Regions from separate parts of the Homo sapiens genome. Here regions 1, 2, 3, 4, 5 and 7 are each linked to region 6. Evidence: fine-mapped expression QTL. A gene starts in region 6. Each other region holds a variant in brackets. All regions are shown on one strand. Distances are from middle to middle. Region 1 overlaps ZFAND4 (zinc finger AN1-type containing 4). Region 2 has its middle 36 kb from the start of MARCHF8. Region 3 has its middle 34 kb from the start of TIMM23. Region 4 has its middle 39 kb from the start of MSMB. Region 5 has its middle 14 kb from the start of AGAP4. Region 6 holds the start of NCOA4 (nuclear receptor coactivator 4). Region 7 has its middle 57 kb from the start of OR13A1.

Region 1 (4,068 bases), 360 kb before region 6:
TAAGGCTTTGAAAAATTTATTCATATCCTTTTCTAAAACATACAAATTATGTCTTCTATACCATATAAAGCATAACTTTACAACGATTGTACATTTGACTTTTTTTTTTTTTTTGACAGAGTCTCGCTCTGTCGCCAGGCTGGAGTGCAGTGGCACAATCTCGGCTCACTGCAACCTCCGCCTCCCGGGTTCAAGCAATTCTCCTGCCTCAGCCTCCCAAGAAGCTGGGATTACAGGCACCCACCACCATGCCCAGCAGATTTTTGTATTTTTAGTAGAGACGGGGTTTCACCACGTTGGCCAGGATGGTCTCGATCTCTTCACCTTGTGATCCACCCGCCTCGGCCTCCCAAAGTGCTGGGATTACAGGCGTGAGCCACCATGCCTACTCCTGTTGTATATTTGAATCATACTGGATAAAAGGAATGCCAACCACCATAATAGGTTGCTTAAAAATAGTACTCACTAGGCTGGGGGCTGTGGCTCATGCCTGTAATCCCAGCACTTTGGGAGGCCGAGATGGCAGATCATGATGAGGTCAGGAGATCGAGACCATCCTGGCTAACATGGTGAGACCCAATCTCTACTAAAAATACAAGAAAAAAATGAGCTGGGCGTGGCGGTGTCTGCCTGTAGTCCCAGCTACTTGGGAGGCTGAGGCAGGAGAATGGCGTGAACCCGGGAGGCAGAGCTTGCGGTGAGCCGAGATTGCGCCACAACACCCCAGCCTGGGCAACAGAGCAAGACTCTGGTCTCAAAAACAAAAAAAAGTAGTACTCACTAAATCATCAACGGTTTCCAGAGGATATTATAGCATTCAGATGACATTAGAATTGGTAATAAGTATTAGACAATCTCTGCTCACATACATACAATGGCTAATAAGTATGAGTGGTAAGCCCAACAAATAGAAGTAGTAAACTAAATGACAAGTATAGAACTAGGAGCACAAAAATGATCAAATTGCTATTGCTATTAATCGTGAAAACTCTATACAGGGGGGCCTTGAACTTAAACTAGGACAAATGATACACATCTTTCTGGTGAGGTGGTTAAACCTTTTTAAAAATAGCTTTATTGAGGGCCAGGCACAGTGGCTCACACCTGTAATCCCAGCACGTTGGGAGGCCGAGGTGGGCGGATCACCTGAGGTCAGGAGTTCGAGACCAGCCTGGCCAAAATGGCGAAACCCCATCTCTACCAAAAAATACAAAAATTAGCCAGGAATGGTGGCGCACACCTGTAGTCCCAGCTACTCGGGAGGCTGAGGCAGGAGAACCGCTTGAGTCCAGGAGGCAGAGGTTGCAGTGAGCCAAGATTGCACCACTGCACTCCAACCTGGGTGACAGAGCAAGACTCCATCATTAAATAAGAAAAAAAAAGCTTTATTGAAATATAATTCACATGCCATAAAATTCACTCATTTAAAGCCTAAAATTCACTGGTTTTTATGATGTACACAGAGTTGTGCAACAATCACCACATTTGCTTTAGAAAATTTTCATTACCTCTAAAAGGAACCCCATACCCTGTAACCAACACTCCCAAATTCCCCCAGTCCCCCACTCAACCCTAGGCAACCACTAATCTACTTTCTATCTCCAAATTGGTCTATTCTGGACATTTCACATAAATAGAATCATATATGATTTTTTTGTGACTGGCTTCTTTCACTTAGCATAATGTTTTCAAAGTTCATCATGTTCTAGGATATATCAGTATTTCACTCCTTTTTATTGCTGAATAATAGTCCCCTGTAGCAATATATCTCATGTTGTTTATCCATCCATCAGTTGATGAGCATTTGAGTCGTTTCCAATTTTGGGCTGTTACATATAGTGCTAAGATGAACATTCAACTGCAAGTTTTTGTGTAAACATATGTTTTCCTTTCTCTTTGAAGTAGCTTTGCTAGATAATGTGGTAACTCTTATGTTTGGCAATTTGTGGAACTACCAAACTGTTTTCTAAATGGTATGGATCATTTTATAGTCCCATCAACAATGAATGAGGGTGCCAATTTCTCCACACCCTTGACAATACTTGTTTCTGTCCTTTTGATTAAAGCTATCCTAGTGGGTGTGAAGTAGTATCTCACTGTGGTTGACTTCCATTTCTTTAAAAACTAATGATATTGTGCATCTTTTTTATGTGATTATTGGCCATTTGCATACATTCTTTGGAGAAATGCCTATTCATATACTTTGTCTATTTTTTAATTGGATTTTTTATTGAGTTGTATGAGTTTTTATATTACATATTCTAGATAAAAACACTTAACAGATATATGAATGGTAAATATTTTCTCTCATTTTGTGGGTTGTCTTTTGATAGTATCTTTTGAAACACAAAGGTTTTTAATTTTGTTAAACTCTAATTTGG[C/T]TATTTTTCTTTTATCATACTTAAAAAGCTTGGCTTAACCCAAGGTAATAAAGATTGACTTATATATGTTTCTAAAAATTGTAGTTTTAGCTCTTATGTTTAGGTGTACTGTCCAATTTCAATTTAGTTTTGTGTATGGTGTGAGGTAGAGTCTAACTTTATTCTTTTGCATGTGGATAACCAGTTGTTCCAGTATCATTTGTCAGAATTACCATTCATTCCCAATTGAATTGTCTTGGATCCTTGTTAAAAACCAATTTACTGTAAATGTGAAGGTTTATTTCCAGACTCTTTATTCTGTTGATCTACCTATGCCAGTACCACCACATCTTAATTAATGTAGCTTTGTAGTAAGTTCTGAAATCAGGAAGTGTGAGGCCTCCAATTTGTTCTTTTTAGATTGTTGGCTATTCTGGACTCCTTGAATTGCCATATGAATTTTAAGTATGCCCATTTTGCAAAAATGTCAGCTGGGATTTTGACAGGGATTGTATTAAGTCTGTAGATTTGGAGAGTACTGCAATCTTAATACTAAGTCTTCTAATCCATAAATACATACTATTTTTCAGTTTATATCTAATTTATTTCAATGTTTTATAATTTTTAAAGCACAAGTTTTGTTCTCTTTTATTAAATTTATTCCTAAGTATTTTATTCCTTTAAATGCTATTACAAATGGAATCACTGTCTTATTTACAGATTGCTCATTGCTGGTTTATAGAAACACAACCGATTTTAATATCTTGATCCTGTACACTGCAACTGTGCTGAACTGTTTATTTCGTTCATTTAGTTATTTAAATCTTCCTAAACGCTCTCTATAAAAGCTCTATATACAAGATCATGTCATTTACAAATAGAGTTTTACTTCTCCCTTTCTAATCTATATGCTCTTTTCTTTCTTTTTTTTTTTTTTTTTTTTTTTGGAGGGGGTGAAAGTCCCACTCTGTTGCCCGGGCTGAAGTGAAATGGCACGATCTCCGCTTATTGTAACCTCCGCCTCCCGAGTTCAAGCGATTCGCCTGTCTCAGCTTCCCAAATAGCTGGGATTACAGGCACCTGCCACCACACCAGGCAAATTTTTGTATTTTTAGTAGAGACAAGGTTTTACCAAGTTGGCCAGGCTGGTCTCGAACTGCTGACCTCAGGTGACCCACCCACCCTGGCCTCCCAAAGAGCTGGGATTACAGGCCTGAGCCACTGCACTGGGCTTATTTCCCTTTCTTGCCTAATTGCCCTGCTCTGGAACCTTCAGTACAAGATTGAATAAAAGTGGTGAGACTGGACATCCTTGTCTAATTCTTGATTGTAGAAGGAAACCATTGAGTCTTTAGGTATAATGTTAACCGTGGGGTTTTCATAGATTACCAATATAAGGTTGACGAGCTTCCCTTCTATTCCTGCTTTAGGTGGGTTTTCTTTTTAATCATGAAGGGGTGCCAATTTTATCAAACGCTTTTTTCATTGTCTATTGAAATAATCATTTGGTTTTCTTTACTTTTTTATTCACATATTACATTACTTTTTATGTGTCAAATCAATCTTGCATTACTGGGGTAAATCCCATTTGTACCTGGTATGTAATCCTTTACATATGTTGATGGATTTGATCTGAAAATATTTCCTCAGGATTTCTGTGTCTATAATCACAAGAGATGATGATCTGTAGTTTTCATTATGTCTGTCA
Region 2 (4,068 bases), 460 kb before region 6:
GAATGACCACGGGAACACTTCAAGTATTGATTTAGGGGTTACAAATAAAATTTGCAATTTTCACATGTATGGAATCCTCAAATAATGAGGATCAATTGTGTATCAAGGAGACTAAATATTCCAATTAAAATGTAGCTTTTTTTCAGATTGGGGAGAAGAAAAAAACAAGACCCAATTATGTCTACAAGAGATACCTTTTGAATATAAAGACACGGGTTAAAATAAAGAGGATGGAAAGATAAACCACACAGCACTAATAATAGAGTGAAAAGCACAACACTTTCCACAACTGACACAAGATAAAACTTTTAAAATCTAAACAGCCATGTATTTATTAAGTTAAAATACTCAGCCTACCCTTTTACAAAAAGAAGACTCAAAACTCAGATGGTTTCACTGGTGAAGTCTATCAGACACATGTGGAAGAAAATAAAGGAGTAAACAATTCCCAATTCATTTTAGAAGGTTTGCATAAACCCATTACCAAAATATTTTTCATTTATAAAAAAACTATAAAACATGACCATAGGTGATTAACACAGATGAAAACATCCTCAGCAAAACAATGGAAAGATCAAAATCAGTAACTTACAAAAAGAATAATATATCATGATACTGCAGTATTTATCCCAGGAATATAAAATTTGGATTCACATATAAAAGGCAATTTCATTTACTATAATACCAGATGCAATGAAAGCATTTGACGAAGTTCCATATCCATTCCGGGTTAAAAAAAATAAAAATTTTAGCACACCTACAAACAGAAAGAAACTTCCTCTATCATATAAACCTTCAGCAAATAATGAAATTCTGAGGACTTTCCCTCAAAGATTGGCAACATGGCAAAGATAGTGATAGAAATCGCAGCAAGTCTACTCAACATTATATTATATAGAAGATCCTAGCCAATGTAATAGGCAAGGAAAAGAAATACTACGCATAAATATTTGAAACGAAGTTATAAAACTTTCTTTTCAGAGGCAATATAATTGTTAACAAACAAATTTTTAAGAATTATGTCAATCTAACAAGATTCATTTAAGTAAGTTTGGCAAAGTTGCAGGATGGCAGGTCAATAAACAATTGTATTTCTATATTCCACCAACAAAATGAAATTTTAAAAACGTTTCTCAATACCAAAAAGCAGATTACTTAAGAATAAACTTAACAAAAGATATGGAAGCCCCATATACTGAAAACCACAAAACACTGCTGAAAGAAATACCTAAGTAAATGAAGATATATACCATGTTTGTAATTCGAAAATTTCAACACTGTCAAGATGTTGATTCTGCCCAAATCACAATTCCAACCATATTCCCACCAGGCACTTTTATAGAAATTAGGCTTTTGATTCTAAAAGCCTATGAAATATAAAAGTATATGAAATATGAAAGTATATGAAAATTCAAAAGACCTAGAACGGCCAAAACAATCTTAAAAAAGAACAAAGTTGAAGGAGTTAATGTCAGGCCTCTGAGCCCAAGCTAAACTATCATATCCCCTGTGACCTGCACCTATACATCAAGATGGCCTGAAGTAACTAAAGAATCACAAAAGAAGTGAAAATAGCCTGTTTCTGCCTTAACTGATGACATTACCTTGTGAAATTCCTTCTCCTGGCTCATCCTGGCTCAAAAGCTCCCCCACTGAGCACCTTGTGACCCCGACCCCTGCCCACCAAAGAACAACCCCCTTTAACTGTAATTTTCCTTTACCCACCCAAATCCTATAAAATGGCCCCACCCTTTCTCCCTTTGCTGACTCTCTTTTTGGACTCAGCCCACCTGCACCCAGGTGATTAAAAAGCTTTATTGCTCACACAAAGCCTGTTTGGTGGTCTCTTCACAGACGTGAGTGAAATTTGGTGCCGTGACTCGGATCGGCGGACCTCCCTTGGGAGATCAATCCCCTGTCCTCCTGCTCTTTGCTCTGTGAGAAAGGTCCACCTACGACCTCTGGTCCTCTGACCAACCAGCCCAAGCAACATCTCACCAATTTTAAATTGGGTAAGCGGCCTCTTTTTACTCTCTTCTCCAACCTCTCTCACTATCCCTCAATCTCTTTCTCCTTTCAATCTTCGCGCCACACTTCAATCTCTCCCTTCTCTTAATTTCAGTTCCTTTCCTTTTCTGGTAGAGACAAAGGAGACATGTTTTATCCGTGGACCCAAAACTCCAGCACCAGTCATAGACTCAGGAAGACAGTCTTCCCTTGGTGTTTAATCACGCGGGGACACCTACCTGATTATTCACCCACATTTCATTGGTGTCTTATCACCGCGGGGACGCCTGCCTTTGTCATTCACCCACATTCCCTTGGTGGCAAGTCAATTGCAGGGACACCTGCTTTGGCTGCTCACCCACCCCTTCTCCACTTTCCTGGGGGGCAAGCACCCCTTACCCC[TTCTC/T]TCTGTGTCCCCACCCCTTCTCCACTTTCCTGGGGGGCAAGCACCCCTTACCCCTTCTCTCTGTGTCCCCACCCCTTCTCCACTTTCCTGGGGGGCAAGCACCCCCTCACCCCTTCTCTGTGTCTCTACCCTCTCTTTTCTCTCCACTTTCCTGGGGGGCAAGCACCCCCACCCCTTTTCTCCATGTCTCTACCCTCTCTTTTCTCTGGACTTGCCTCCTTCACTATAGGCAACCTTCCACCCTCCATTCCTCCTTCTTCTCCCTTAGCCTGTGTTCTCAAGAACTTAAAACCTCTTCAACTCACACCTGACCTAAAACCTAAATGCCTTATTTTCTTCTGCAATATTTTCTTCTGCAATGCCACTTAACCCCAATACAAACTCGATAACGGCTCTAAATGGCCAGAAAACGGCATTTTCGATTTCTCCATCCTATAAGACCTAAATAATTCTTGTTGTAAAATAGGCAAACGGTCTGAGGTGCCTGACGTCCAGGCATTCTTTTACACATCGGTCCATCCCTAGTCTCTGTTCCCCAATGCAACTCGTCCCAAATCTTCCTTCTTTCCCTCCCGCCTGTCCCTTCAGTCCCAACCCCAAGCGTCTCTGAGTCTTTTGAATCTTCCTTTTCTACTGACCCATCTGACCTCTCCCCTCCTCCCCAGGCTGCTTTTCTGGTAGAGACATAGGAAACGTGTTTTATCCGTGGACCCAAAACTCCAGCGCTGGTCATGGACTTGGGAAGACAGTCCCAAGTCTTTCCATTTTTTCCTCAGCCTCCGCCCCGCCACCCTACAATCCTTTTATCACCTCCCCCTCCTCACACCTGGTCCAGCTTACAGTTTCGTTCTGCGACTGGCCCTCCCCCACCTGCCCAGCAATTTCCTCTTAAAAAGGTGGCTGGAGCTAAAGGCATAGTAAAGGTTAATGCTCCTTTTTCTTTATCGGACCTCTCCCAAATCAGTTAGCGTTTAGGCTCTTTTTCATCAAATATGAAAAACCCAGCCCAGTTCATGGCCCATTTAGCAGCAACCCTTAAGACTCTTTACAGCCCTAGACCCTGAAGGGTCAGAAGGCCATCTCATTCTAATTATGCATTTTAACACCCAGTCAGCTCCTGACATTAAATAAAACTCCTAAAATTAAATTCCGGCCCTCAAACCCCACAACAGGACTTAATTAACCTCTCCTTCAAGGTGTACAATAATAAAGTAGAGGCAGCCAAGTAGCAATGTATTTCTGAGTTGCAATTCCTTGCCTCCACTGTGAGAAAAACCCCAGCCACATCTCCAGCACACAAGAACTCCAAACACCTGAACTGCAGCTGCCAGGGGTTCCTCCAGAACCTCCTCCCCCAGGAACTTGCTTCAGGTGCCGGAAATCTGGCCACTGGGCGAAGGAATGCCTGAAGCCCGGGATTCCTCCTAAGCCTTGTCCCATCTGTGCGGGACCCCACTGGAAATCCAACTCGCCCAGCAGCCACTCCCAGAGCCCCTGGAACTCCGGCCCAAGGCTCTCTGACTGACTCCTTCCCAGATCTTCTCAGCTTCGTGGCTAAAGACTGATGCTGCCCGATCACCACAGAAGCCTCCTGGACCATCACAGATGCTTTAGGTAACTCTTAAAGTGGAGGGTAAGTCCATCCCCTTCTTAAT
Region 3 (4,068 bases), 92 kb before region 6:
AAGAGGTGTCAAAGATGGGCAGATAACAAGAATGGGAAGAGGGAATATAACCAGATGGCAAAGGATTCAAAGGAACGAAGACTGTTGGAAGCTGGTAGGTACTTTCCCTGAGGCTGTGATGCTGCTGCTTTTTTTTTTTTTTTTTTCCCAGTAGAAACAGGGTTTCACCATGTTGGTCAGGCTGGTCTCAAACTCCTGACCTCAAGTGATCTGTCCGCCTCAGCCTCCCAAAGTATTGGGATTACAGGCGTGAGCCACATGCCCAGCCATGTGGTTCTAAATGATGCCAGATCTAAGGCTATGGGCCATTAAGGCCGACTTTTGCTAGAGGGTTTTCTTCTTCTTTCTACCTTGAATTCAAATATTTGAACTTATTGGGCCTCCCTAGTTTTACTCAATTAGTTTTTATGATGAATCTTCCCTTTTCCCTAGCCATTTTCAATTGACCTAATGTTTGGGTAGTATGTTTAATCTGATTCAGCTTCTTTCCTAGGTGCTATGTCAAAGACCGACTCTGACAGCATGTGCCACAGTCCATAGATAAAAATGAGATGTCAGTTACTTAAACTCCCTAAACCTTGGTTTTCCATTCTTCATTTGTAAAACAGAAATATTAATAGCATCTAACTCATGAGGTGGTTGTTAGAATTAAATCAGATAAAGCATACTGCTGACACTATAGTTGGTACATAGAAAACTCTCAGTAATAAGCACTACCACCTCCATCGCCAAAGATAACCAAATAAGATGATCCAGCAAACACAAAGAAGATATGTACAGGGAGGATCTTGTAGAAGAGGTGAGTCTGGGATGAGACAGGCCTATGCCTGCAACAGATAGAAGTGTCCAAGAGAAGTGAGGCTGGAATAGTCTGCAACTTAAGCAGCAGGCATGGAAGAAGGAAAGGATTACAAAGGGAGACAGGAGCCAACTATCAGGAAAGAGGCTATGCATATGGTTACTTAAGGCAGTGAGCAGTTCCAACATTGCACTCCCAGTGGAAGATGCCCTTTGTTTATCTTAGAGCTAGGCTTCTCAGGACTGAGGCAGATTAGACCAAGAGCAAGACCTCAATACATATCACTTTGGAGTTCATTTGAAAATATTCCATATTTCATTATGCTGGAAATGGCCCTTGCTGCAGAAAATGTCTTTTTGTAACACTTTTCATGTAATCAAAGAGCATTTGTGGTGACAAGGCACTATGTCACTCAGCGTACTAAAAACTTTGTTAACACACTATAAAGAAAAATTATTTAGCCTGCTTAGAATCTGACAGACTCTTGTAGTAAATCATTACCTGTCATTATCATCACAATAAATCGAGGATGAGTATTTTTCTCTACTAGTACTAATAGTAAAATAAGGAGAAACACCATTGGCTTAGTCTTTGGTAAACCACAGCACTAACAGCACCCCCTCATATAAAAGGACCAATGGACCTATTTAGTCTTTGATGAGCAAGTTTACCGCTTGTTTAGATAGGCTACACACTGAAACAATATATAAATTTGAAAAACAGATCTAACGTTCTGTTTTTATTTACTCATTATTTTTACCTTCAGATAAAAATACTACAATAGTCCTTCCAGGGTTAAATATGCAATGTTACATGTAGATAAGTGTTCAAAGCATACTCAAAAGGACTACAGAATTTATTTTTATGAGTAGGAACATAAGAAGAATAAATGCAAATTAACAGGAATTATAAATCAAGGCATCATGTTTAACTGTGTTAATAAAATACAAACAAAACAAAACAAAACCCAAAACACTTCAGAGCTAGCTGATAGAGATATAAATCATGGGCAAGATTAAAACACAGAATTATTTTCACTCCTCTAACAGTAGATTTTTGGATAATGAAATCAACACCACAGCAACATTTAAAAAGAATAACTTCTACTGCTATTTGACACAAATGAAGGGTTAGAGTTATAGGACAAACTAAGTACTAGCTTAATTTCATTATTAGAATATAAGAGAAAGTCTACTGAATGAATTTTCACTTTTGAGTATCTATAACTTCTAACCTCTTTGTCCACCACATAAATAAATACAATCCAGATAGTGTTTTGCAAACACAAAATAACAACTCCAACTTCATCAGTGATCTAGTGCATAGAGGGCTCAACTAAGACTGATATTCCATGGTAACTCATCAAGTTTATAAAAGCAAAGTGCCTAGTTCCAATTGGAGTAATCTGTCCTTTGGGATATGCACTATTTAGAAATCATAAATCATAAATATGAGACCCTCAACATATGTCCCCATTCAAAAGCACTCATTAACCAAACCAGGGAGAGAAATTCCACATATTCCATAC[A/G]AATCTAAAAGTCACAATTGATCTGTTTCAATATTTTAGTGATTCTGATTAGCTCCCTTTTGGCTCCTATAGTTCTCATGAATTAAATTGAGCTGTAAAGTAATGCAGACCTTATGATTCCAGAGACTGTGAGTCACCAAGGGAAGAGGTCCAAAAAGGTTAAATTTCCACTGAACTCCAAATCAGAGGTTCGAAAGCTAGAGAGATAAAGACATTAGCTTTAGTCTTATGAAACATTCAAGGCTGCTTTCATTTGATTAGGAGTTTGGTACAGGCTCTTTGTGACAAATATAACAAAGACACTTGATATTTTTTAAGCTTTGAAGAAAATCCCAGAAAACAGATTATCTACGAAGAATGTTAAATCAAGCTAAGTAATAATGTGTTTATATACATTCAGAAACTTACTTCAGTGTTATCAAAAAACCAAACCAAAACAAAACAAAAAATGACCACCAAAAGGCTATCATGGAAGGAGGCCACATTCCTTCAGTTACTGAATAACGAAATCTGTTGTGATTTAAAAAGGTAGTTATAACAATTTACCGCCTTAGGTCAGCTTTTCCCAAACTATTCTAAAAAGCACTAACCCTACATGAAATGTTTATAGACAGTCTGGGGATAAAGGGGTGGGGATAGGAGGAATGAAGAGAGAAGAAAGAAAAATCCTCTAACAATATTTTTGTTCTAAAATTTTTAATACACAAAAATACTGAGTATATTTGATACAGTTAAAATTACCATGAGATAAGCTACTCATAATAGCATGCCACACCTCAGAAAGCCAGGATGTCCACAGTATACCACATATGCTTGAATGCATTGATGCTCAAGTGATGCATAAACATACAACTATTGTGTTTTACGTTATTGAATCATAGCTGATTTGTGCTGTGATTTTTGCCTAATAATTTCAACATATATTTTAACTTTTTATTATATAATAAAGGCATAAATCAAAACTTAATTTCTTCCAGCCATTACTTTGTGTATGTGAAATAACTTTTTGTAATCTATTTTAATACAAGTTTATGTTCTTTTTTCTGAGTTTCTACTGATGCTCTGTCAATACATTATCATTTTTAAAGTTTTCCATAATCACAAGTTCAAAAACTGTTATTTTAGCTAAACACAGCTATAATAATACATGCCTCAATTTTGGAGACAATGAATTATGTTGTACCTGTTTTTAAAATTTTAAATGGCCTTTCTCTTTCTGCCAACTTGGAGCCTGTGGAGGCCTGCTGGGAACAGGAATACTAAAAGGAAGTATGTCTGGAAGGCTGTGGTCCAAGGCCATTTTTGCTGAGTATAAGTGGGGTCTCCAGAACCAAAGACAGCACACAGCTCTTTTTAAAATAGAAGGTGCTTATGCCCAAAATGAAACAGAATTCTATTCGGGCATAAGATGTGCTTATATATACAAAACAAAGAACAACAAAGTGACTCCTGGTGGCAAACCAAACAAAATCAGAGTAATCTAGGGAAAGGTAACTCGGTCCCAGGGAAATAGTGGCATGGTTCACGCCAAATTCTGAAGCAATCTTCCTGCTAAGGCCACTGGACACAGAATCTGTGTGATGCTGTACCCCTCAAGCATTTAAATTAATGAAAAGTAAATAAATAAAAGTGGATTTGTGCTCTTGGAAAAAAAAGTAAAAAAAAAATTTAAATGACAGAAACAGTTCTGAAGAAAAAGACAGATGTAATAACATGATCAACTTAATTTGCATCATTCAAA
Region 4 (4,068 bases), 54 kb after region 6:
TCTACACTAAAAAAAAAAATACAAAAATTAGATGGGCATGGTGGTGGGCACCTATAATCCCAGCTATTTGGGAGACTGAGGCACAAGAATCGCTTGAAACTGGGAGGCAGAGGATACAGTGAGCCGAGATCACGCCATTGCACTCCAGCCTGGGTGACAAGAGCGAAACTCCGTCTCAAAATAAATAAATAAATAAAATCTAAAATTTCGAAGGTAAATTTCGCATGTGGAACTTTACTTTTCAGATACTGATTGATAATGCGTGATACTGATTGATGTAATGCGTAACAATTTTCCAGCTAGACAGAAGTAAATTTTCCATAGCTTGGCTGGGCATGGTGGCTCACACCTTAATCTTAGCAATTTGGGAAGCCAAGACGGGAGGATTGCTTGAGCCTAGGAGTTTTAGACCAGCCTGGGCAACCATAGCAAGACCTCATGTCAACTTTTTAAAATAAAAGAATAAATTTTTTAAAAAAATATATATCTCCTTCAGCTCTTATAGGGGAAAGAACATGGGTTTTGTTTTCAGGAAGACCTGGGTTTAAATCCCAACTTCACTAGTCACTATTTGAAGGATCTGGAGAAATTGTTTACTCTCTTTGAAGTTCAGTTTCCCTCTCAGGGGAGCAGAGATGATAAAATCTTCATCACAAGGTTGTCACAAGGATTACATGCAATAACATACGTAAAACTCTAATCTGGCATTTAAGAGATGTGATTTCCTTTTCCCATACTGGTATGCCCTCTTTTTTTTTTTCTCTTCGTGTATCAGTCAGAGTCCTGCTAGAAAAAAGATTGCAGAGCTGTAACATGTAGAACCAGGACCGTTTTCAAAGTTGTAGATGTTTATGGGATGGCGATGTTCCCAGAGGCTTGCAGTAACAGGGAGCCATTCTCACCTGAGCAGTAGGGATGGGACCCATCATCAGAATCTGGGGAGAGAACTGTGGCCAGGGGAGAGGGAGGGCCCCTGACAAAAGCTTTGGTAAAGGCATACCATTATTGCTAAAACCATGGCCTGTTGGGGAAGGAGCCAGGGAAATCCAGGCCGCAGGCTCTCTCTCCTCCTACATCAACAGCTGCTGCTACCTCCATCAGCCTAACCCAGCTCGAGGCCAGGGGGAGAGGTGACCTAAGTGATGTGGTCTGTAGAAGTCGTCCTCCCAGGGCACAGAGCAGGGTGGGGAGGAGTAGAATGGATCTAAAAAAACAGTCCAAGACTATCCAGCACACATGGATGAAAACCTTAATGCAAAAGGCAAAAGCAGGTCATGGAAGTACAGTTAACTGAAAGGGATTTTGTGAGGATTTGGAGTTTTCCTGTGATGACTCAGAGTAATTCCAGGGAGTACATGTATAAATAACGCGCATCTTGCACCAGTCTGGCTTTGGGATGCAGAGAGCACACAATGAAAACTGCTCTACAAGGGCCAGCCTTGCTGTAGCTTCACACTCCTCCACACTTTAGAAAACCTGCAGGTGACGGGCAGGGTGGATGAGTCTGATGTTTCCTTCTGCACCCCATGTCCACCAGAAGTGGCTCCTCCAGGCTCTGCAGGCTGAGTCCATAGACTCCCGGAGAGTTGGTACTTCGCTGACTGAGGCCCCACGTCACAGGGGTGGGCCAAGGTCAGTGAAACCCTGCACACGTTCAAAGAAGCTATTTCCACTTATCACCACCACGGGGGAGAAACAGGAATGTTTCCCCTACTGTGAAATGAGTAATGAATGGACGAATAAATATTTCCAAATAGCATACTCTTCATGTAAACCTACCTTGCTAAAATAGCTGAAAAAGTTTAAAACACATACACACATTTCTTTTTTAATGTTTTATTTTGGTCAAATATATATAACATAAAATTTATCATTTTAGGCCAGGGGCGGTGGCTCATGCCTGTAATCCCAGCACTTTGGGAAGCCGAGG[T/C]GGGTGGATCACCTGAGGTCAGCAGTTCGAGACCAGCCTAACCAAAATGGTCATAAGAGTTGAAGGAGATATAGAATTTTTTTAAAATTTTATTTTTTTGTTTTAAAAAGTTGAAATGGGGTCTTGCTATGTTGCCCAAGCTGGTCTCAAACTCCTAAGCTCCTATGGCTTTTTTTTTTTTTGAAATGGAATCTCTCTCTGTTGTCCAGGCTGGAGTGCAGTGGCGTTATCTGGCTCACTGCAACCTCTGCCCTCCAGGTTCGAGCAATTCTCCTGTCTCAGCCTCCCAAGTAGCTGGGATTACAGGCGCCCACCACCATGCCATACTAAAAATTTTGTATTTTTAGTAGAGATAGGGTTTCACCACATTGTCCAGGCTGGTCTCGAACTCCTTGACCTCAGGTGATCCACCCGCCTTGGCCTCCCAAAGTGCTGGGATTACAGGCATGAGCCACCACACCTGGACCCCTTCTTTCAATTATTTTTGGTAGATACCTAGAAGCAGAATTGTGGGATCATATGGTAATTCTATGTTTAATGTTTCGAGGAGCTACCATACTGTCTTCCACATCGGTGTGCCATTTAACATTTCACCAATAGTGCACAAGGGTTCTAATTTCTCTACATCCTTATCAACACTAGTTACTTTCTGTTTAGTTATTTTTGATTTTTGATAATAGTCATCCTAATGGGTGTGAAGTGGTATCTCAACATGGTTTTGATTTGCATTTCCTTAATGATTAGTGATATGGAGCATCTTTTCATGTGCATATTGTCCATCTGTGTATCTTCTTTGGAGAAATGTCTATTCCAGTCTTCTGCCTTTTTTTTTTTTTTTTTGAGATGGAGTCTTGCTATGTTGCCCAGGCTGGAGTGCAGTGGCATTATCTTGGATCACTGCAACCTCCACCTCCCAGATTCAAGTAGTTTTCTTGCCTCAGCCTCCCAAGTAGCTGGGATTTCAGGAATGCACCACCACACTCAGCTATTTTTTGTATTTTTTGTAGAAACGGAGTTTCACCATGTTGGTCAGGCTGGTCTTAATCTCCCGACCTCAAGAGATCTGCCCACCTCGGCCTCCCAAAGTGCTGGGGTTACAGGTATGAGCCACCACACCCAGCCTTCTGCCCTTTTTTTTTTTTTTTTTTTGACATGGAGTCTCGCTCTGTTGCCCAGGCTGGAGTGCAGTGGTGCAATCTCGGCTCACTGCAAGCTCTGCCTCCCGGGTTCATGCCATTCTCCTGCCTCAGCCTCCCGAGTAGCTGGGACTACAGGCGCCCACCACCATGCCCGGCTAATTTTTGTATTTTTAGTAGAGATGGGGTTTCACCTTGTTAGCCAGATGGTCTTGATCTCCTGACCTCGTGAATGGCCTGCCTTGGCCTCCAAAAGTGCTGGGATTACAGGCGTGAACCACTGTGCCCGGCCTCTGTCCATTTTTTAATTGGGTTGTTTCTTTTATATAATTTAGTTGTAGGAGTTCTTTATATATTTTGGTTATTAATGCCTTATCAAATACACGATTTGTAAATATTCTCTCTCATTCTGTGGGATGCCTTTTCACTCTGTTGATAGTGTCCTTTGAGGCACAAAATTTTTCAGTTTTGAGGAAGCCCAATGTAACTGTTTTCTCTTTTGTTGCCTATCCTTTCGGTGTCATATTGAAGAAATAATTGCCAAATCCAATGTCATGAACCTTTTCCCCTATGTTTTCCTCTAAGAGCATTACAGTGTTAGGACTTAATTTAGGTATTTGATTCATTCTGAGTTAATTTCTGTATCTGGTGTAAAGTGAGGGTCCAACTTCATTCTTCTGCATATGGATATTTAGTTTCCACAGCATCATTTGTTGAAAAGACTGTTCTTTTCCCATTGAACGATTTTAACACCCTTGTCATTTGACTATATATCGAAGGGTTCGTTTCTAGGCCTTCTCTTCTATTCCATTGGTCTATATGGCTAGCACCACATGATTTTGATTACTGTAGCTTTGTAAAAAGTTTCTTTTTTTTTTGAGACAGAGTCTCGCTCTGTCACCCAGGCTGGAGTGCAGTGGTGCAATCTCGGCTCACTACAATCCCCGCCTCCTAGGTTCAAGTGATTCTCCTGCCTCAGCCTCCTGAGTAGCTGGGATTACA
Region 5 (4,068 bases), 170 kb before region 6:
TGAATACTTCAATAAAATAAAACTAATAGCAAAAAAGAATTCCAGAGTTGAAGCAGTTTCAGGAAAAAGGAGTTGGCAGTATGAAGTAAAATAGAAAAAAATGGGTTTTTTTTTAAATGGGTATATTTGTGTCTACAACTTTTTTTTAATTATAGCATTAGACAATGTGTATATATATATACATATATAAAGCAATGGAAGTGGCATTGTTTTCATACTAGTCTAGGATATTAAAATATATGTAATATGTGATTGGCAAAATAATGGCCCCCCAAAGATGTCCACAGATTCCTAGAACCTTACATGAAAACGGTACATCATGCATGTGATTCAGGTAAAGACCTTGACATGAGGAGACTACCCTGGTGCTATGGAATGAACGTTGTGTTCCGTCAATGTTCATGTGTTAAAATCCTAACCCTCAAGGTGATGGTATTAGGAGGTTAAGCCTTACGGGAGACTCTGCCCTCATGACTGGGATTAGCACCTTATTACAGGCACAAGGGAGCTTGTTTGTTCCTCTCACCATGCGAAGACACAGCAAGAAGGAAGCCTCTATGAGAAAGCAGGCCTTCACCAGACACCAAGACTGCCGGCACCTTGATCTTGCATTTCTCAGCCTCCAGGACTGTGAGAAACGAAGTTCTGTTATTTATAAGCTACCTGGTCTAATGCATTTCCTTGTAGCAGCCTGTATGGATTAGGACAGTGGGCTCATGTGGATGATGACGGTGTGTCCATTCAGGACTAAGTAAGCACATGAGTCCTTAACAGTGGAAGAGAAGGGGGAAGGAAAGAGCCACAGAGACATGTGGCCACAGAAGAAGGGTCCATGGGATGCAAGGTTGCTAATGGTGAGAGTGGAGAAGAGCCCAAAGCCAAAAAATGCAGGCAGACTCCAGAATGTGGAAAAGGCGAGAAAAAAGATCCCCTAGAGCCTCTAGAGATGAAGGTAGCCTTTCCACCACCTAGATTTTAGCCCAGTGAGATCCACATCATACTCTGACATACAGGAGTGTAATAAATTTGTTTTATGCCCTGACATAGTGGTAGTTTGTTGTAGCAGCAATGGACTAGTAATATATAAATATATATATACACACACACACACAAACACTACCCCCCCACCACACACACACACACACACACACACACACACACACACACACACACATAACTATATATATCCTACCCTTCAAAATTGAAGCAGATAAACTACACATTAGCATTAACTTAGCTGGGTGTAGTGGATCATGCCTGTAGTCCCAGCTACTCAGGAGGCTGAGAGGGAGGATCATGTGAGCCCAGGAGTTTAAGATCAGCCTGGGCAAACACACTGAGGCCACATTTCAAAAACAAACAAACAAACAAAACACAACAAATCTTTGATTAAGCTCATTTCCCAAATTTGAAGAGGAGACAATTATTAGATAAAGAGGAGAAAAGAGAAAGGTAGAGCTGCTGACTTTTGTGGCGGAAGCAGAGGCACAGGCCCAAACATACTCCTTTCCTCCTGGCTTTCCTGTCCCTTCTCATAAGGGACACATGAACCTCTCAAACTGAACCATGGATCACAGACCCATACTCAGAACTCAATACAGTTTTGTTCTATGATTTTTTACATGTCTGTGTCCTTGCTTCTGCCTCCCATTCCCAACTCCCTTACTCTAGTTAGAAAAAAATGGCTATTACCAAATATGAGTACATCCTCATATACTAATGCCAACTGATCATCACCTGGTTTTCTTCTTTTACAAAGTCATAAATCTTTAGACTTTAACACATCTTCCAAGCAATAGAATGTTATTTTCCAGTCCATTAACACAAATTCTATATTTAAAATGAAGACTTCACAAGTTGATTTAAATAACATATTAACCAACATAGACTGGCCATGGTTCAAACTGACATTTTAATTAAATGTGATGATAGGTTGAGTAACCTAGCAGTACTCTAAAATGACTTTTGGTTATGGCTTTTTCCATATTATGTTTAGGCTGAGGCATCCCTAAATGATTCAACTGTAATTCCTCTTCTTAAACATGAGATTTATCTTTACAAAATAATTTATTTTCTTAAAATTACAAGTTAATTCTATAGTTCATGCATACATAATCTCAGCAGATATCAGCTGTATGTGTACACACATACATATAGGTATTTGTATATACACACATTACATAATTTTTTTAAAAACTTATTAGTAGGGTAGAACCACGAAGACAAAGAGGCTTTGTGTAATGTGATGGAAACACATTTGCAGGACGAACAACAGGCTGCTGTGAGGGCTGCATTTACCCTTTCTACTGTAAGACTTGGAAAAACATGGATAGTGGATATTTAATC[C/T]GCATAACAGAAATTTCAGGGTGCAGAAAACTTCCCACAATTTTTACAGACAATGTCAACAGACAGGCATTCAATGCAGGGAATACACAGTGTGACAGTATACAAAAATAAGCAGGTTGATGGTTTAGATTTATGAGACAAGAGAAAGAAATAGATGATGCCATAATTCTCCTTTTATGGAGTTATGAAAATTGTTCATTTTATATAAGGTCAGGTGCTTTCAAATGTCAATGAGAAAAATATTTAAAGGAAGAATCAAATCTAAGACGTGGAGAGATCTTTATAAAAATGACCTTCAGGCCAGGCACGGTGGCTCACACCTGTAATCCCAACACTTTGGGAGGCCAAGGTGGGTGGATCACAAGGTCGGGGGATCGAGACCATCCTGGCCAACATGGTAAAACCCCGTCTCTACTAAAACACAAAAAATTAGCCGGGAGTGGTGGTGTGTGCCTGTAGTCCCAGCTACTTGGGAGGCTGAGGCAGGAGAACTGCTTGAACCCGGGAGGCAGAGGTTGCAGTGAGCTGAGAGCACCACTGCACTCCAGCCTGGCAACAGAGCAAGACTCCATCTCAAAAAAAAAAGAAAAGAAAAAAAATTACCTTCATTCTGAGAAGGTATAATCATCAACACATTCTTGAGCAAAACTACGCACATACACACTTCCAAATTCACAAACCATGCTTGTGCACACACTGATGTCTCTAGATTCCTTTTTTGAAGAGATGGCAACTTGGTGTGTCACCCAGGCTGGAGAGCAGTGTTAGGATCATAGCTCACTGCAGCCTCAAACTACTGGGGTCACGTGATCCTCCTACATCAGGCTCCTCAGTAGCCTGAACTATAGGAATGAGCCACTATGCCCAGCCAATGTTTTCATTTTTTTGTAGAGATGAAATCTTGCTATATTGCCCAGGCTGGTCTTGAACTCCTGGCCCCAAGGAATCCTCCTGCCTTGCCCTCCAAACGTGCTGAGATTACAGGTGTGAACCATTGTGCCCAGCAACTGTATTCTTTATTAAGAAGAAAATTTGTTTGCTGACATGTAGGCAATGAATTGATAAGTAATAGTTCAGAAATTACTAATTTACAAGTCAATATAAATGAGGTGAGTAAACACAAAAATAACAGCATAAATAAACAGTTCATGACTTCACGTTTCTTTTTCTCCTTTAAAATGTAGCTCTGACAGAGACTACTACTTGTCCATTCCATGGAAAAGTCAGAGGTGGTTAAAATGTCAGAGGTACACTTACTAATACTTTGATGCCTTTTGTGTAGCTTCTTCTCAGTACTTCACCAGCTGGGATTGACACACCTCTACAGGTGGGTTCAGGAGCCAGACAGCAGCACACAGAATGGGGAATCCAAAGCCATCTCTGACACTAAAAGCAATGAAAACAAAAATAACCAAACATATTATCAAGAAATGAACAAGAGATTGATATCAAGTAAAGCAAGAAGAGAAGAAAGCATTTAATCTGCCAGGCTTTCATTCTGACAAAATAATTTACAACATGCATGTCTCTATCTGACATGAGTGAATAGAAAAAGAACCCAAATACCCAGTTGAATTGCAAGATGAAAATGAAAAAGAACTCTTGCTTATTCGCCAGGGTACAATCTAATCTGGGCTACTAAAACACTTTCATGCACTGATTCTATGTAACACATGCTTTATTGCCATTTGGAAATGGGATTTCTTGCTTTGATTTAAATAT
Region 6 (4,068 bases):
CACTAACTTAGGGACTCTCAACCGGGGGAGGGATATGTGTCAGGATATCCTATGGAGTTTTATGAAACCCCTACACCGGATCCTGAGATTCTGGCACAGCTATACTGATTTAATAAAAAAAAAAAAAAGGGGGGGGTGAGGGGTACTATGTAGTTCTAAAATATCTTCTCTCCCTTTGAGAAGGACATCTTCCTCCCCTTCCATAGCTCAACATGTTTTTCCATTTCCGAAATGCCTGTTTGCACAAAGGTAATAATGTAATTGTAGAGATTTATTTAGATAAAAACTACCACAAAACTTTCAAAGAGTAGGATTTTCCTTAGAGACCCAAGGACAAAGGCTCCCTGGAAGGCAGGAAAGGAGAAAATGAAAGGAACGTTATTGTGCTGGACTTTACATACATAATCTCATTTACTTATCTGAACAAATCTGCAAGCTAGCAAATCTTCAAATGAGAAAACCAAGTAAATTGCCTAAGCCACTGCATCCTTAGGGTAAGTCTTTCTCAAACGGTCTCAAGTACTTTAAAGTTTGGAAATGTCACACTAGGATCTCGGTATAAAAATGGGCCAACTATGACTTCCTGTGCCATCCTCATTCCAATAAGTAACTCAAGAGTCTCTATAAACTTAGTTCCAAATTACCAAGTGCGTGGTGGAAAGCTAAGTCCATCCAAAAGGCAATTACTGTGGTGAACCCGACCCTGATTAGAAAGTGACACAAAAAGGCACAGTTAAAAGTAAAAAAGCTCTGCCTTTGGGGTCAGATAAATTCAGCACTCTGACTTCTGTCATTCTACTTCTGCCATTCTTGATGGCATCATTCCATGTTAAATCCCGTGCCACGTAAGATTATGATTATTGTTTTCCCCACAACAAGAATTTAGTTCCATGAGAATTAGGTGTCCATTTTTTTCATTGCTATCCTCAACATCCTGAACATACAGGCACCAAATAAATGATTGCTGGTGGAATGAACCAATGAATGAGCAAGCCTTACTCTTCTCAGCTGTAAAACAGAGATAATCAAGCTACTTTTCGGGATTATTGGGAGAATTAAATGTGACAGTATGTGTTTGGCACACAGAGGGCCAAAAAAACCCAATATCTTCTTTGCATTTCCACCTGACAAGCTAGAAATGGATTATGTTCTGTGCCCGTCCGGCAAAACAGACCTCGCCTCGCCCCACATCCAAGCAAGAGGCGAGAGAAACAGGAAACTTGGAGCTGTCACACCTAAAGAGAGGGGAAGGCCGGCGGGGAGCAGGAGGTGTCCGAGCCGGGTGTGAGGAGGGTCGGGGAGGAAAGGACAGGCCCACGGCCGGGCACGAGGAGGGTCGGGGAGGAAAAGACAAGCCCGGGCCCGGCGTGTGGCGGGAAGGCGAGAACGTAGGCCCGGGCCCGGCGTGTGGCCGGAAGGGGAGAAGACAGGCCCGGGCCCGGCGGGCAGGCAGGAAGAGGTGCCCGGGCCTGGCGTGTGGAGGGGAGGGAAGGGAAGGAGAAGGCAGACCGGTCCCGGTGTCGGTCGGGTCGGGAAGGGGCGGACAAGCCCGGGCCCAGCGGGCCAGCGGTCATCGAGCCTCCACCCGGCCCACAGCGTTCTTACCAGGTCCGAGTGCCTCTCCAGGCGATCCGAGGAGACCTTGGGTGGACTGAGACACGGCCCCACACTAACCTACGGCCCAAAGGCAGAGTTCTCGCGACAACACAATCTTCCTCCCACACCTCTCGCCATACGTCTGACAGTCTCGCGAGATCTCCGCTCGGGTCAGCCAGAAGCCCTTGACTGCCCTCTAGGAGGCGCAGAGCGCAGGCGCACACTCCCTCCCCGCCCTTGCAGTGTCCTTTAGTCCTTCGTGAATAAATCGAAATTAAATGAAGCAAATGCTTTTTTGAAGGCAAATTTGGTGCCAAGGACCATCCTAAGTGATTCAGATGGCCTCACAAGGTAGATATTATTTAGTTTGAACATTCAGATGCAAAAATGAATATCGTAAGACACAAAAGGCCATATGTTGTATGATTCCACCTTTGCCACATTTGTTTTTCTAAGGATTGAGTTAATAGGCCGGGAGCAGTGGCTCACGCCTGTAATCCCAGCACGTTGGGGGCCGAGGCGGGCGAATCACGAGGTCGGAAGATGGAGAGCATCCTGGCTAACACGGTGAAACTCCTTCTCTACTAAAAATACAAAAAAATTAGCCAGGCGTGGTGGCTCGCGCGTATAGCCTCAGCTATTCGGGAGGCTGAGGCAGAACTGCCTGAACCTGGGAGGCAGAGGTTGCAGTGAGCCGAGATCGCTCCACTGCACTCCAGCCCGGGCGACAGAGCAAGACTCCGTCTCAAAAAAAAAAAAAAAAAAAATTGAGTAAATAAATAAATGGCAGAACCCAGATTCTTTTTTTCTTTTCTTTTTTCTTTGAGACAGGGTCTGACTCTGTCGCTCAGGCGCAGTGGCGCAATCTCGGCTTGCTGTAACCTCTGCCTCCTGTGTTCAAGCGATTCTCCTGCCTCAACCTGCTGAGTAGCTGGGATTACAGACATGCGCCATGATGCCCGGTTTTTAAATTTTTTTGTAGAGACAGGGTCTTGCTGTGTTACCCAGACTGGTCTCAAAGTCCTGGGCACAAGCGATCCTCCCACCTGATCTAGGATTACAAGCATGAGCCACCACGTCCAGCCTACAGCCCAGATTATAACCCACATTATTTACTTGTGACTAGATGTTAAATAGCACTTCTTTCTGTCTCAGTTTTGACAGAGGTCCTCCATACTCAGTTGCCAACTGCTTCCCCACATTCCGCAGCAAAGGAGGTGATCATAGCAGGGTTTTATGGATCTCATCCAAGAGTGACTCTGCTACAAGGGGCAAGGCAACCTCATTAGAAAACAATAGGAGACATAGATTACGATGCAGAAGCTAAGATAACAGTCATAGGCTGTGAGTGGAAGGGGAGCTGTGGAGAGAGAAGCCCACAAAAGTCCCATGAGGAAGTCAGCCTAGAACATGACCTCAGGCAGAAGGAGCCCTTAACTCTCCTGTCCCCCATTCCCTCTCAATTCAGATGCAGCCCCTGGAATGAGACTTTGTGTAACTCAAAATGTAACTCAGACCACTTTTTTAAATTATCTGAAGGTGAACAAGAAAGCTAAGGGACCTGTCTAGATTGCTCAACTGGCCCACATAGCATGTTTAAACAGATAGGGGACAGGGGAAAATAAAGCTCTTTATCAGTTGCCCACTGATTGTTCAACAGATGACTGTTTGCTCATTTCTGATCTGTCACGTACACACAGCTGAGTCCAAGCCCCAGGAGAACAGGGTTCTCTCCTGAAATCTCTCTGGTTCACTGCTGTATCCCCAGGTCTAGAGCACTGCCTGGCCCAGGTGCTCAGTACAGACCTGTTGAGTGAACAGATGTTCTTTAACACAGAAACAGTTAAAAGAGAATCAATGTTGTCGTTGTCTTAAGCCACTAAGTTTTCGGTGGTCTGTGTGTAGCAAGAGGTAGCTGATGCTGGGGCCTTGCACCCAGGCCACTCTCCATCTGCAAGGCAGAGCCCCTGGCCTTTAATTCCCCTCGGGCTGCATGTGGTCTTGGGGGCACTTTCTTCAGGCTTGTTCTAAGCTGTTTTACAGGCTTGTTCTAAGCTGTTTCTTGTTCTAAGCTGCTTTGACCTCAAGCAAACACAGAGGAATGTGGGGGACACATCATAGAAGACACTTCCTGATGAAGAGGAAGGAGGGATAAACAGGAACACCGTAAAGAAAAGAAGGGATCTAATTCCAGCTTGAAGACACACATTTTTTTCATCGTTCACCAGACAGCAGGACACGGGCAGCAGAGTGCAGACATCAGAAACAGTAAGAGTGGCAGTGGTCCCCTGAGTAAGGGATGCACAATGACCTATTATAGAGTTTAGGAAAAATAGAACTTTTATTCATATGTATTTTGTTTTGTTTTGTTTTGTTTGGGTTTGGGTTTGTTTGTTTGTTTGCTTGTTTTTTGAGACGGAGTCTCACTCTGTCACCCAGGCTGGAGTGCACTGATGTGATCTTGGCTCACTG
Region 7 (4,068 bases), 770 kb before region 6:
AGTGCCCAATTAGCAGCCACCAGGGATCCTAGAGGGACATTGGTCTCTAGATGGCTTTGTTCATCTCCTAATGATGTCTGGCGTGTCTGGAGTCTGCCCGTTGGTCCTGGTGGATCCTGACTGGTGTCAAGAGACAGTCCAATGTTAAACACATGAAAAATAATATTTATTCTACTTAGGTGGACAACAGCAAGGAGCAGGAATCAGAAAATAATTGCTGTGGTCAAGTCATACAACCCTTCTTTTTTTTTTTTTTTTTTTTTTTTTTGAGACGGAGTCTCACTCTGTTGCTCAGTTGCTCAGGCTGGAGTACAGTGGCACAGTCTCACCTCACTGCAACTTCCACCTCCTGGGTTCAAGTGATTCTCCTGCCTCAGCCTGCTGAGTAGCTGGGATTACAGGCATGTGCCACCATGCCCAGCTAATTTTTGTGTTTCTAGTAGAGACGGGGTTTCACCATGTTGGTCAGGCTGGTCTTGAACTTCTGACCTCGTGATCTGCCTGCTTGGCCTCCCAAAGTGCTGGGATTACAGGCATGAGCCACCGTGCCCAGCCATAACCCTTCTTTTTATATTTTGGTTGTCATTCCTTAAATATATTTGCACACATAATTAAAGTGTAACTATGATGCTTGTGTAATAAATTTGTATTTCCAACAGGCCCAATTAGCAGCCACCAGGGATCCTAGAGGGACATTGGTTTCTAGGTGGCTTTGTTCTAGATGAAAGTGTAACTAGTGAACTGGAAGGGTCAGAATATATTCCTCCCTGGACTGACCACTTAGCATGGCATGAAGGGAAAAACAAATTCAGCAAAGGTCAGAATGGCCCAGATGGAGTTTGTCTGTGACTCTTTTAGTCTAACTCACTTCGGAGGGCTGCAGTTGGGGCCACAGTATTTTTCCTATATATGGTATTATGATTCCCCCAAGATGGAAACAAACCCTAAGACATGATGAAGAAATACTTTTTGTGGGATGACAGACTTAAATGACCTCAAGTTTTTTTTAAGTTACACATTTATTTTTGCAATATTCATCTTGTGACTGCATGTCATGAGTGGTATCTTCTCAGCAATGTGTTACATGATCAGATACGTAAGTAAAAGAAGGGATTTTTTTCCTGCTTGGCAATAAACTGTATAGGAAAATGACTAATACTTTTAAAATTACATTATCCTTTATGAAGACTAATAGCTACATGCACAGTTATTTTGGGCTGCATGTAATATAAGTATATTCATAGATAAAAATCATAATGTTTACATAACAAAAATTACATAAAATATAATGTTTGAAAATAAACAAGTCCAATTGCCACACGGATACTGTTTTACATGTTTAATAAAATAAAGTTCTCCATTCTTTAATCATGACACTGTAAAATAGCTCACTGAAAATTGATTGAAGAAATGGAAAACCAATGATGGGAGAAGCAAGGAACAGGACAGTAGTCCAGGAATTTATCCTGGAGGGATTTCCTGCTGTCCAGCATCTGGGGAATGTCCTTTTCCTGGTGCACCTGCTGGCATACCTGGCCTCCATCATGGCAAACATGCTCATAATCACCATCACCTGGGCTGACCATCACCTCCAGACACCTATGTATTTCTTCCTCAGCAGTTTTTCCTTCTGTGAATGCTGTTTTATCACCACAGTTATTCCTAAACTTCTGGTCATCTTTCTTTCAGGCAGGCAAATAATCCCCTTTACTACTTGTCTCATGCAGTCCTTTTCATTTTTATTTCTTGGGTCAACAGTTTTCTTCCTTATGGCTGTGATGTCCTTGGATTGATACCTGGCCATTTGCAAGCCTCTGCATTACTCCACCATCATGAGCCTGAGGACTAGCTTCCACCTGGTCACTGCCTGCTTTGTCGTGGGCTTCACTCTCATCACTGGTCTCATGGTGAAGGTTTCCCAGTTATCTTTCTGTGGACCCCATGTCATCCCTCACTTCTTCCGTGACCTCGGCCCTCTGATCCAACTCTCCTGTTCTGACACCAGATCTACTGAAACGTTGGCCTTTGTCCTTGTTTCATTCGTTCTTTTTACATCCCTCATTATAACCATCATTGCATATGGCAACATAGTAGTCACAATTGTACGACTCCCATCAGCCAAGGAGCGGCAGAAAGCTTTCTCCACCTGCTCCTCTCACCTCATTGTCCTCTCTCTGGTGTATGGCAGCTGTGTCTTCATATATGTGAAGCCGAAGCAAATGGACAGGCTGGACTCCAACAGAAAGGCTGCTCTTGTGAACACAGTGGTGACCCCACTGCTGAACCCGATCATTTACACTCTGCGGAACAAGCAGGTCCACCAGGCTCTGAGGGATGCTCAGTCCAGAATGAAATTGTAAAAACAGAATCACAACCTCCCAGTGAAGGAATGCACCTTCTCCTTGATCTAATCCAATCTTTCTCCTGTTTCTGGAATCCTTTATAAAAAATTTGCAAATATGTTTTTTTTAGGTTCTGTTTGTTTTTTCTTAGAATAAGGGCTAATT[GTCCCTC/G]TCCCTCTCCCTCTCCCTCTCCCTCTCCCTCTCCCTCTCTTTCCACGGTCTCCCTCTCCCTCTCTTTCCACGGTCTCCCTCTCATGCCGAGCGGAAGCTGGACTGTGCTGCTGCCGTCTCGGCTCACTGCAACCTCCCTGCCTGATTCTCCTGCCTCAGCCTGCCGAGTGCCTGCGATTGCAGGCGCGCGCCGCCACGCCTGACAGGTTTTCGTATTTTTTTGGTGGAGACGGGGTTTCGCTGTGTTGGCCGGGCTGGTCTCCAGCTCCTAACCGCGAGTGATCCACCAGCCTCGGCCTCCCGAGGTGCTGGGATTGCAGACGGAGTCTCGTTAACTCAGGGCTCAATGGTGCCCAGGCTGGAGTGCAGTGGCGTGATCTCGGCTACAACCTCCACCTCCCAGCCGCCTGCCTTGGCCCCCCAAAGTGCCGAGATTGCAGCCTCTGCCCGGCCGCTACCCCGTCTGGGATGTGAGGAGCCCCTCTGCCTGGCTGCCCAGTCTGGAAAGTGAGGAGCCTCTCTGCCCGGCCGCCATCCCACCTAGGAAGTGAGGAGCGCCTCTTCCCGGCCACCATCCCATCTAGGAAGTGAGGAGCGTCTCTGCCTGGCCGCCCATCGTCTGAGATGTGGGGAGCACCTCTGCCCCGCCGCCCTGTCTGGGATGAGAGGAGCGCCTCGGCCCGGCCGAGACCCCGTCTGGGAGGTGAGGAGCGTCTCTGCCCAGCCGCCCAGTCTGAGAAGTGAGGAGACCCTCCGCCTGGCAACCGCCCCATCTGAGAAGTGAGGAGCCCCTCCGCCCGGCTGCCACCCCGTCCGGAAGGGAGGTGGGGGTCAGCCCCCGCCAGGCCAGCCGCCCCGTCCGGGAGGGAGGTGGGGGGTCAGCCCCCCACCCGGCCAGCCACCCTGTCCGGGAGGTGAGGGGCGCCTCTGCCCGGCCGCCCCTACTGGGAAGTGAGGAGCCCCTCTGCCCGGCCAGCCACCCTGTCCGGGAGGGAGGTGGGGGGGTCAGCCCCCGGCCCAGCCAGCCGCCCCATCCGTGAGGGAGGTCGGGGGGTCAGCCCCCCACCAGGCGAGACGCCCCGTCCGGGAGGGAGGTGGGGAGTCAGCCCCCTGCCCGGCCAGCCGCCCCGTCCGGGAGGTGAGGGGCGCCTCTGCCCGGCCGCCCCTACTGGGAAGTGAGGAGCCCCTCTGCCCGGCCACCACCCCGTCTGGGAGGTGTACCCAACAGCTCATTGAGAACGGGCCATGATGACAATGGCGGTTTTGTGGAATAGAAAAGGGGGAAAGGTGGGGGAAAGATTGAGAAATCAGATGGTTGCTGTGTCTGTGTAGAAAGAAGTAGACATGGGAGACTTTTCATTTTGTTCTGTACTAAGAAAAATTCTTCTGCCTTGGGATCCTGTTGATCTATGACCTTATCCCCAGCCCTGTGCTCTCTGAAACATGTGCTGTGTCCACTCAGGGTTAAATGGATTAAGGGCGGCGCAAGATGTGCTTTGTTAAACAGATGCTTGAAGGCAGCATGCTCGTTAACAGTCATCACCACTCCCTAATC

What was found. PIP is the estimated chance that this variant, and not a neighbour inherited with it, causes the effect. A credible set is the group of variants that fine-mapping cannot tell apart.
Region 1: its variant is the best candidate, but not a certain one, in a credible set for the expression of NCOA4 in whole blood (INTERVAL, PIP 0.72).
Region 2: its variant is the best candidate, but not a certain one, in a credible set for the expression of NCOA4 in whole blood (INTERVAL, PIP 0.55).
Region 3: its variant is the best candidate, but not a certain one, in a credible set for the expression of NCOA4 in T cells (TOPMed, PIP 0.58).
Region 4: its variant is the best candidate, but not a certain one, in a credible set for the expression of NCOA4 in blood mononuclear cells (TOPMed, PIP 0.84).
Region 5: its variant is the best candidate, but not a certain one, in a credible set for the expression of NCOA4 in whole blood (INTERVAL, PIP 0.73).
Region 7: its variant is the best candidate, but not a certain one, in a credible set for the expression of NCOA4 in whole blood (INTERVAL, PIP 0.65).

The regions. Positions count from the first base shown.
Region 1 is chr10:45,664,176-45,668,243 of GRCh38, forward strand. The region is part of intron 1 of ZFAND4 (zinc finger AN1-type containing 4); the gene reads right to left. Among named protein-coding and RNA genes, the nearest start is that of ZFAND4, 6.6 kb to the right of the region's middle. The variant C/T (reference allele first, on the strand shown) is at 2,382.
Region 2 is chr10:45,569,705-45,573,772 of GRCh38, forward strand. It overlaps a transcript of MARCHF8 not described here. Among named protein-coding and RNA genes, the nearest start is that of MARCHF8, 36 kb to the left of the region's middle. The variant TTCTC/T (reference allele first, on the strand shown) is at 2,410.
Region 3 is chr10:45,936,924-45,940,991 of GRCh38, forward strand. It overlaps the pseudogene PARGP1-AGAP4, the pseudogene PARGP1 and the pseudogene RPL35AP23. Among named protein-coding and RNA genes, the nearest start is that of TIMM23, 34 kb to the right of the region's middle. The variant A/G (reference allele first, on the strand shown) is at 2,328.
Region 4 is chr10:46,083,410-46,087,477 of GRCh38, forward strand. No RefSeq gene overlaps it. Among named protein-coding and RNA genes, the nearest start is that of MSMB, 39 kb to the left of the region's middle. The variant T/C (reference allele first, on the strand shown) is at 1,931.
Region 5 is chr10:45,859,383-45,863,450 of GRCh38, forward strand. It overlaps the pseudogene PARGP1-AGAP4 and the pseudogene PARGP1. Among named protein-coding and RNA genes, the nearest start is that of AGAP4, 14 kb to the left of the region's middle. The variant C/T (reference allele first, on the strand shown) is at 2,347.
Region 6 is chr10:46,028,921-46,032,988 of GRCh38, forward strand. It overlaps NCOA4 (nuclear receptor coactivator 4), which reads right to left and starts at 1,703. Exons shown (of 10, transcript NM_001145263.2): 1 at 1,606-1,703. It overlaps LOC105378287 (a long non-coding RNA gene), which reads left to right and starts at 1,855. Exons shown (of 3, transcript XR_945923.4): 1 at 1,855-1,947; 2 at 3,669-3,864. RefSeq lists a silencer at 1,229-1,318 and an enhancer at 1,679-1,748.
Region 7 is chr10:45,256,764-45,260,831 of GRCh38, forward strand. It overlaps the pseudogene OR6D1P. Among named protein-coding and RNA genes, the nearest start is that of OR13A1, 57 kb to the right of the region's middle. The variant GTCCCTC/G (reference allele first, on the strand shown) is at 2,508.